Homo sapiens: one gene and its partner. The protein of the gene in region 2 purifies or fractionates together with the protein of the main gene of each other region. This does not show direct contact. Each region holds a gene or a part of one and is shown on either strand. Other genes may lie near its edges.

What was found.
Region 1: the proteins of ZNF302 (region 2) and SH3GLB2 purify together in Homo sapiens (affinity purification with mass spectrometry; one large-scale study listed by BioGRID and IntAct). This does not show direct contact.

The regions. Positions count from the first base shown.
Region 1 is NC_000009.12:129,025,496-129,029,975, forward strand, and holds the start of SH3GLB2 (endophilin-B2), read right to left. Parts: upstream 2,837-4,480; 5' UTR 2,660-2,836; coding exon 2,597-2,659; exon of another isoform or gene 2,164-2,596; coding exon of another isoform or gene 2,068-2,163; intron 1-2,067.
Region 2 is NC_000019.10:34,683,787-34,687,209, forward strand, and holds the end of ZNF302 (zinc finger protein 302), read left to right. Parts: intron 1-205; coding exon of another isoform or gene 206-387; exon of another isoform or gene 388-465; coding exon 466-1,451; 3' UTR 1,452-2,610; downstream 2,611-3,423. UniProt on the Homo sapiens protein: May be involved in transcriptional regulation.

The DNA of each region.
Region 1 (4,480 bases), on a different chromosome or scaffold from region 2:
GTGGAGGTTGCAGTGAGCCGAGATTGTGCCACTGCACTCCAGCCTCGGCGACAGGATGAGACTCTGTCTCAAAAAAAAAAAAGGAAGGAAAGAAGAAAGGAGAGAGGGACTAAGGGAGGAAGGAAGGAAGGCAGGCAGGCAGGCAGGCAGGCAGGCAGGCCTCCCTCACATCCCTCCTCAGCTCTCAGGAGCTACCCTGATGGTACCAAGGGCATCACCCTAAATGTGCACCTCAACACCTCCCCTCCTTACCAAGGTTCAGAGCAGCACTCCCCACCCCGCCCTCCCTTACAGGCCACATCTGCCCAGGTGAGAAGTTCTACCAGGCTTTCCCAAACTAGACGGCATCCATCCCATGTCCACTGCAGTCTGCCTAGCTCCATGATGACGATGCCACCACCTCTCTGGACTTTATAAGTATTACTTCTACCACTACTATTACTGTTACTGCAATTACTACTAATAGTATTAGTACTATCACTCCTCCTGCCCTCTCCCACCCCCACTGGCATCTTGTCCAAATCTGCCTTAGGTTTTCTTGCCTCGGTGCCCTTATCTGGGCTGCTCCTGCCACTTGGACCAACATCATGAGCCCCTCCCTACTTTCTGAGCACAGTTCAGGGGCCCTCCATGCAGGAGACCATCCCAGAATGACCCATACAAAAGGGATCCTGCCCTCTGGATCCTCATCTCAGGGCCAAGGCCTTGTTCCTTGCTGGATCGGGGAGGCTCTTAAAGTTGTTTCTTGTACCTGCAGGGACTGGGAGGTTCCTGAGCCCATCACATGTATTGATCATAAAGAACCCCTCTCCCATCCCTCCTGACTGTCTCCCATCCAGGCCAGCTTGGTCTCAGGCGGAGCCCCTCTGTGGCCTCTCCTGCCAGGTCACATTTCAGGCCTCTCTATCCCCTGGCCTGCCACTCTGCCCCAATCCTGCCAAGAGGAAGGGGTTTGGTGCTGGAGTCCGAGGCTGCTCCCGGGAAAATGGCAGCAGTGGGGTGGGCGTGCAGAGCAGAGAAAGCCTCTATTTATAAAGCTCTCAGCTCCCTCCCTCCCACCCCGAGGCTGGGGCCTGACTGCTGGCTCCCACTCCAGTAACAGTGACCCTGTGGGGCAGCTCCCACCAAGCGGAGCCACACCTAGGCCCTGCCCTGCCTAGGTCCTGAGAGCCCTGGCCAGGTCAGGCAGCAGGGCCCCAGCCCTAGCAGGGAACTGGCAGATCAGGTTCTTCCCAGATGTGGGAGATAGTGTGGTTGCCATACCAACAGCAGAGTGGGTTCCCCCCTCCCAGATGGACTGGGGCCGTCCAATCCGAGGGGCTCTGGGATCCTGGCATCTCCACTAGGGCTGGGGCTGCCCACCAGACTTGGAACACATTAAGCAGTGAATTCTCGCTGGGATGCTAATCCTCAGCGGGACACAGCACCTTCTAGTAAACATGACTACATGGGTTGCTGGCTGGGTGTGGGCTCCTGGGGAGGGGAGTGCCCGGGTTGGGGGTGGGGAGAGAACTGTACTCAACAGAAACAACAACGATGACAACGACAACGACAAAGACAAGACTACAGGACCTGCTCCCAGAACCCTGGGATGGGCCAGCCCCGGGCCTGCGGAATCCCACTGAATCCCATAACCACGGTGTTACACCAGATTTACAGAAGGGGAGGGCGGGGCTCTGAGAGAAGTGACTTGTCCAAGGTCACATGCTGCACAGGTGCAATATTAACCACTTTGACACCAATAATGAGCTTGCCTTTGGTGAGCACACATATGCAGAGTCCCACAGAATCCTCGCATCTGTCCTGGGAGGCAGGAATACTGATCCCATTTTTCAGACTGAGAAACTGAGGCCCAGTGAGATGAAGGCCCCTCCCCCAAGGTCACAGGAGGGCACATTCCCACCCACACCTGACCCTAGGTCTTCCCATGATGTTGAGTTGCCTGTTACTCTCTGCCCCTAAACGGATAGGACTTCTTCCAATCTCAGCATCGTGGGCCTGGACAGCTTCCCAGCCAGACCCCAGCCCTCTCTCCATCCCCCAGGCCCAGGGACCAAGGAAACAGACCTCCCGTGGAGCAGAAAAGAAACAACTCCTGGCTTCCGGCCTGACTATCCAAACGTGTGAAATGGCCATGAGGGACTCATGGCACCAGCCGCCCATTGCACAGGTGCGGAGACTGAGGCTCGGAGAAGGGGTTGTGGTGGACGCATGAGTCCCTGGGCCTGGGACCCAGGTCGCTAAATGCCCCGCCAGGCGCCAGTCACTGCTGGACAAGGGCAGGGAGGTAGCACCCAGCCGGTGCCTCCTCCCCTCCTCAGCCAGGCAGGCGCCAGGGGAGCAGGGTAACCCAACCAGCCCAAAGGGTGGGCACCGGTGCCTCGCCCCAGGCAGCAGGGCCAAGGCCCGGCTCGGGCCGCACGGGCTCTTTCCCTCTTCCGGTCAGCAAGGGCTCAGGGGGGCAGAGGTGTGCCGCGGCGGGGACGAGGGCAGCAGCCCGGGAGGGCTTTCCCGCGTCCCCAGGCGTCTGCCGCAGGGTGCTCCCCGCCCGCCGCACATCCGGGCCCCCGGCGCACGGCGCGACGCCAGGCCTCACCTGCACCGCCCGGGTGAAGAAGATGCCCGCGTCCGACGCCAGCTTCTTCATGTTGAAGTCCATGGCGTGCCCGCACGGCCGCCGCGCACGGCCCGAGCGCAGCCGGCAGCCCCCGGCCCAGCCGCCGCCGCCAACCGCACCCCGCCCACCTGCTGCGGGGCACCAGCCCTCCGCGCACCCGCCTGCCGGCCTGCCCGCCTGCCCGCCCGCCGCAGCCGCCGAGCCAGCCCGAGCGCGCAGGGCGGGGCGCGGAGGCCGCGGGTCGGAGCCAGAGGGGCGGGGGCGGAGCTGGCGGTGCCGGGGCGGGACGGGACGGCAGTGGGGCGGAGCTAGAGGGGCGGGGGCCGGGCTGGTTGGCGGAAGCCGGGCGGAGTCGGAGGGGGCGGGACTGGCGGGACAGGGGCGGAGCGAGAGGGCAGTGGGGCGGAGCTACATGGGTGGGGGCGAGGCCTTGGCGCGGCCAGAGCGGGGGTTGGTCTGGGGAGCAGGTTGTGCTGGGCAGGGCTCGCTGCTGGGCAGTGCTCGCTGCTGCCCCCATGCGCCTGCCGCCGCGGATTGGGCCGGCCTCTTTTTTTCCTTTTACTAAAATTATTAAAACTGGAACACATGTGCTCTTAGATGATTGCAGGTACACGCCATAATTACATATTATTTGCCATCTTACCAATGCTTTTCAAAAGTTTTAATTGATAAATATATATTTACGGCCTACAAGGTGATGAAATTGTGGAATGATGAAATCAAGTTAATTGACATATCCATCACCTCACCTACTTTTTTTGTGGTTAGAACATTTCAAATGTACTCTTTTAGCAATTTTGAAATATGCAATACTTTTTTTTTTTTTTTGTAGACAGAGTCTTGCTCTGTCGCCCAGGCTGGAGTGCAGTGGCGCGATCTCGGCTCACTGCAGCCTCCACCTGCCGGGCTCAAGCGATTCTCCTGCTTCATTCAGCCTCCCGAGTAGCTGGGACTACAGGCGCCCACCAACATGCCCCGCTAATTTTTTGTACTTTAGGAGAGACAAGGTTTTGCCATGTTGCCCAGGGTGGTCTTGAACTCCTGATCTCAGGCAATCTGCCTGCCTCAGTCTCCCAAAGTCACTAAGTGACTGAGTAGTCACCAATATGTGCAACAGATCTCTAAAATGGGCCTCTCTTGCTTTCTCCTCCCACCACCCAGGCCTGCTGCCTCTCCCCTGTTTGTGCCTCTTCATCTCCGCTCTTTATTCACACCCCCTCCCTCCCATTCCCATTTCTTCCACTCTGTTTCCCTTGGGTTTCCTCCCGTTACTCCTCCTCTCTGACCTCTCCTCCTCTCTTCTGCCCTGACCTTGGTGACTGAGCCGGAGTCAGGCTTGGGACTTGCCCTCCACCGCTGGAACAGCTGTTTGTCAGCCTGGGAGGCCCTGTGGCTTCCCCAAATTGGAGGAGGGTTGGGGTGGCGGTCACGGGAAGGGAGGGGGTTCTGGAGCTGGGGCCTGGAGCCCCCTGTGTGGTGAGAGGAGGAGATCAAAGGTTGGGTGACTGTCAGGGTGGAGAGAATGAGCTGCCCTGGGAGCACAGATGTGTGATAACCTTGAAACCAGCTCCTCACAGCCCCAGGCAAGGAGATGACCTACAGGTGCTCCTGACCCCAAATGCCTTCCCTTGGGGCTCAGATAGAGGCTTTGTACTGGTCTTCACCTCTCCTTGCTGTCTACCTCTAGGTTTCCTCTTTTTTTTTTTTTTTCTTTTTGAGATGGAGTCTCGCTCTTTCACCCAGGCTGGAATGCAGTGGCACCATCTCAGCTCACTGCAGCCACCGCCTCCCGGGGTCTAAGCGATTCTCCTGCCTCACCCTCCACAGTAGCTGGGATTACAGGCATGTGCCACCACGCCCGGC
Region 2 (3,423 bases):
AGTAGTATCAATTCTGTATTTTAAGCTTGATAATCCAGCAGCAAATTGAGATTAATGGAAGGTTGGAAAAAAAGGCTATGAAACAAAATGCAACCTTTCCCACATGAATATAGGCACAAAATGATGATTTGTAATCCTGAATGCCTTCCACATCTTATTTCTGATACTTTCCTTTTTTCCATACTATTTTATCCATTTCGTACAGCTTACCCATTTCCTTTATCACACTCTGTTCCTGCTTCTGTGAACTTTGGATTCTCTGCTCTATTTGAGCATTGTTCAGAAGTCACTGAAATATTTGAGTTGTCAGAACTATGTGTTTTCTGGGTGCTTCATTTCTTATCCAATTCTCCTAATTCCACTGTAGAAGCTTTTTTCAAGAAGTAAAAAAAAAAAAAAAAAAAAAAAAAAAAAAAAAAAAAAAAAAAAAAAAAGGCAGTGCTTTGCTTTCTTGATATATTTCAGATTGGGAATCAAGATGGGAAAACAAGGAATTATCAACAAAGAAGGATATTTATGATGAAGATTCACCCCAACCAGTAACAATGGAAAAAGTTGTAAAACAAAGTTATGAATTTTCAAATTCTAATAAGAATTTGGAATATACAGAATGCGACACATTTAGAAGCACCTTTCATTCAAAGTCTACTCTTTCTGAACCACAAAACAATTCTGCTGAAGGGAATTCACACAAATATGATATATTAAAGAAGAATTTATCAAAAAAGTCAGTTATAAAAAGTGAGAGAATAAATGGTGGAAAGAAACTTTTAAATTCTAATAAAAGTGGGGCAGCCTTCAACCAGAGCAAATCTCTTACCCTTCCCCAGACTTGTAATAGAGAGAAAATCTATACATGCAGTGAATGTGGGAAAGCCTTTGGCAAACAGTCAATCCTCAGTCGCCACTGGAGAATTCATACAGGAGAGAAGCCCTATGAATGTCGTGAATGTGGGAAGACTTTTAGCCATGGTTCATCCCTTACACGACATCAGATAAGCCATAGTGGAGAGAAACCTTACAAATGCATTGAATGTGGGAAGGCCTTTAGCCATGGCTCATCACTTACTAACCATCAGAGCACTCACACGGGAGAGAAACCGTATGAATGTATGAACTGTGGAAAGTCTTTTAGTCGTGTGTCCCTTCTCATTCAGCATCTAAGAATTCATACGCAAGAAAAACGCTATGAGTGTCGTATATGTGGAAAGGCCTTCATTCATAGTTCGTCTCTCATTCACCATCAGAAAAGCCATACTGGAGAGAAGCCTTATGAATGTAGAGAATGTGGGAAAGCTTTCTGCTGTAGCTCACACCTTACTCAACATCAAAGAATTCACAGTATGAAGAAAAAATATGAATGCAACAAATGTCTCAAGGTCTTTAGTAGCTTCTCATTTCTTGTTCAACATCAGAGTATTCATACTGAAGAAAAACCGTTTGAAGTTTAGAAATGCAGGAAATCCTTCAACCAGCTTGAATCACTGAATATGCATTTGAGAAATCACATTAGATTGAAACCCTACGAATGCAGTATATGTGGGAAAGCCTTTAGTCATAGGTCGTCCCTGCTTCAACATCACAGTATTCATACTGGAGAGAAACCTTACGAATGTATTAAATGTGGGAAGACCTTCAGCTGTAGTTCAAACCTTACTGTACATCAGAGAATTCATACTGGAGAAAAGCCATATAAATGTAGTGAGTGTGGGAAAGCTTTTAGCAAAGGCTCGAATCTTACTGCCCATCAAAGAGTACATAATGGAGAGAAACCCAATAGTGTGGTAAGTGTGGAAAAGCCTTTAGATCATATGAATCCCTATACATGTGAGAAATCTTACAGAAGAGAAGCAGTGTTTATCACGGTAAACTTCATTCATAGATCCTCCCTTATTTAACATCAGAAAAATGTATACTGGGGAAAAGTTGTATGAAGGTGGTGAACATGGGAGACTTTTAGCAATGATGCAGATTTTTTTATTAGAGTTTATACTGTAGAGAAATCATATGAAGTCAATAAATGTGGGAAAGCCTTTGTCAGTATTAATCCCTTAATTGACCTAAGTATACTCACACTAGGAAAAATCTGTGTACATGTAGCAAATGTGGGAAAGACTATAGGCAATAGGAATCTCCTGCAAACTCCTACAGGAGAAAAGTTGTATGAATGTGGAAACTTTAGAAATTGAAGGAATTTTTCAGTTCCAAGTGCATCCCTTATTCTATAGGAAATAAACTGGAGACAAATCTCATTTAAGAGATGCAGCAAAGTGTTCACTAAGAGTGTTTATCTTGCCAGACATAAGAAGATGAATGGTAGAGCAACCTGAAGGATTTAGAAATTACATATAAATCTTTGCAGTTATGCTATTTGTAAACAGGATTATATAGGAGAGCAAATAAACATAAGTATGCATTTCTTAGAGCAGTAGCTTGCAGTTTCAGTTGAGTTCTACTTAGAAATTCTTTTTAGCTAGTGGGCATGTGAAGATATTTAGTCACCCAGAGGAGCCAGTAAATGTTATAATGTTAAAAATTAAAGCTGCAAAAGAAATAAAATGGTGTTAATAAAAATTTGGCATCTAATAAAATCATTTTGTATATCATGAACTCTTTCTCTGTGACTGTTTGCGACAAAAAAAAATTTCACTAAGATTAGCCTTAGTATAGCCTTTAGCGGGAGACTAGCAAACTTCGAGAAGAATGGCCTGCTCTTTATACTAAGAATAGCAGTATTTTGGTGAGGATTATTGAGTCCATATCCAGTAGGCTTAATTAAATACATTTCAAGAACATTTACTGAGCATTACTCATGTGTATTACACAGGGATGGGATAAAGGAATCTAGTAGTTCTGAGCTCTAGTGCTGTGTCGAAATCACTGGAAGGACGTGTTAAAGCACAGATTGCTAAGCCTCAGTCCTAGAGTTTCTGTATGAGTTGATTTGAATTTGCATTTTTCACACGTTCTTAGGGGACACTAACACTGTTTGTCCAGAATATAATAATAATGTTATGGTGTCACTGACAACATATTGTTTCCTCAATCTTACCTATTAACCATTTCTTGAGCATCTTCTGTGGACTTAAGAAACACTCCATACTCCTTAAGAGCTTCGAGATGTGTGTGTGTGAAGAGCATTAAGCTTTGGAGTCTTGTTACCTGGGTTTAAATCCAAGTTACATGTATACTGGCTTTGTGACCTTGGACAAACTGTTTCACTGGGTCATGCTGCAGTTTCTCCATCTGTAAAATGGTAATAAACCTATTTCACAGCATTATTATGAAAGTTAAATGAGTTAATTGATGCACAATGTTTACAACAATGCCTGGCCTCTCAATAGCATTCAGTAAGTATTAGCTATAGCTATTGATTTCATCATCATCGTCTTCTCATGGTTGCTTCATTATTCTGGTCTCAGA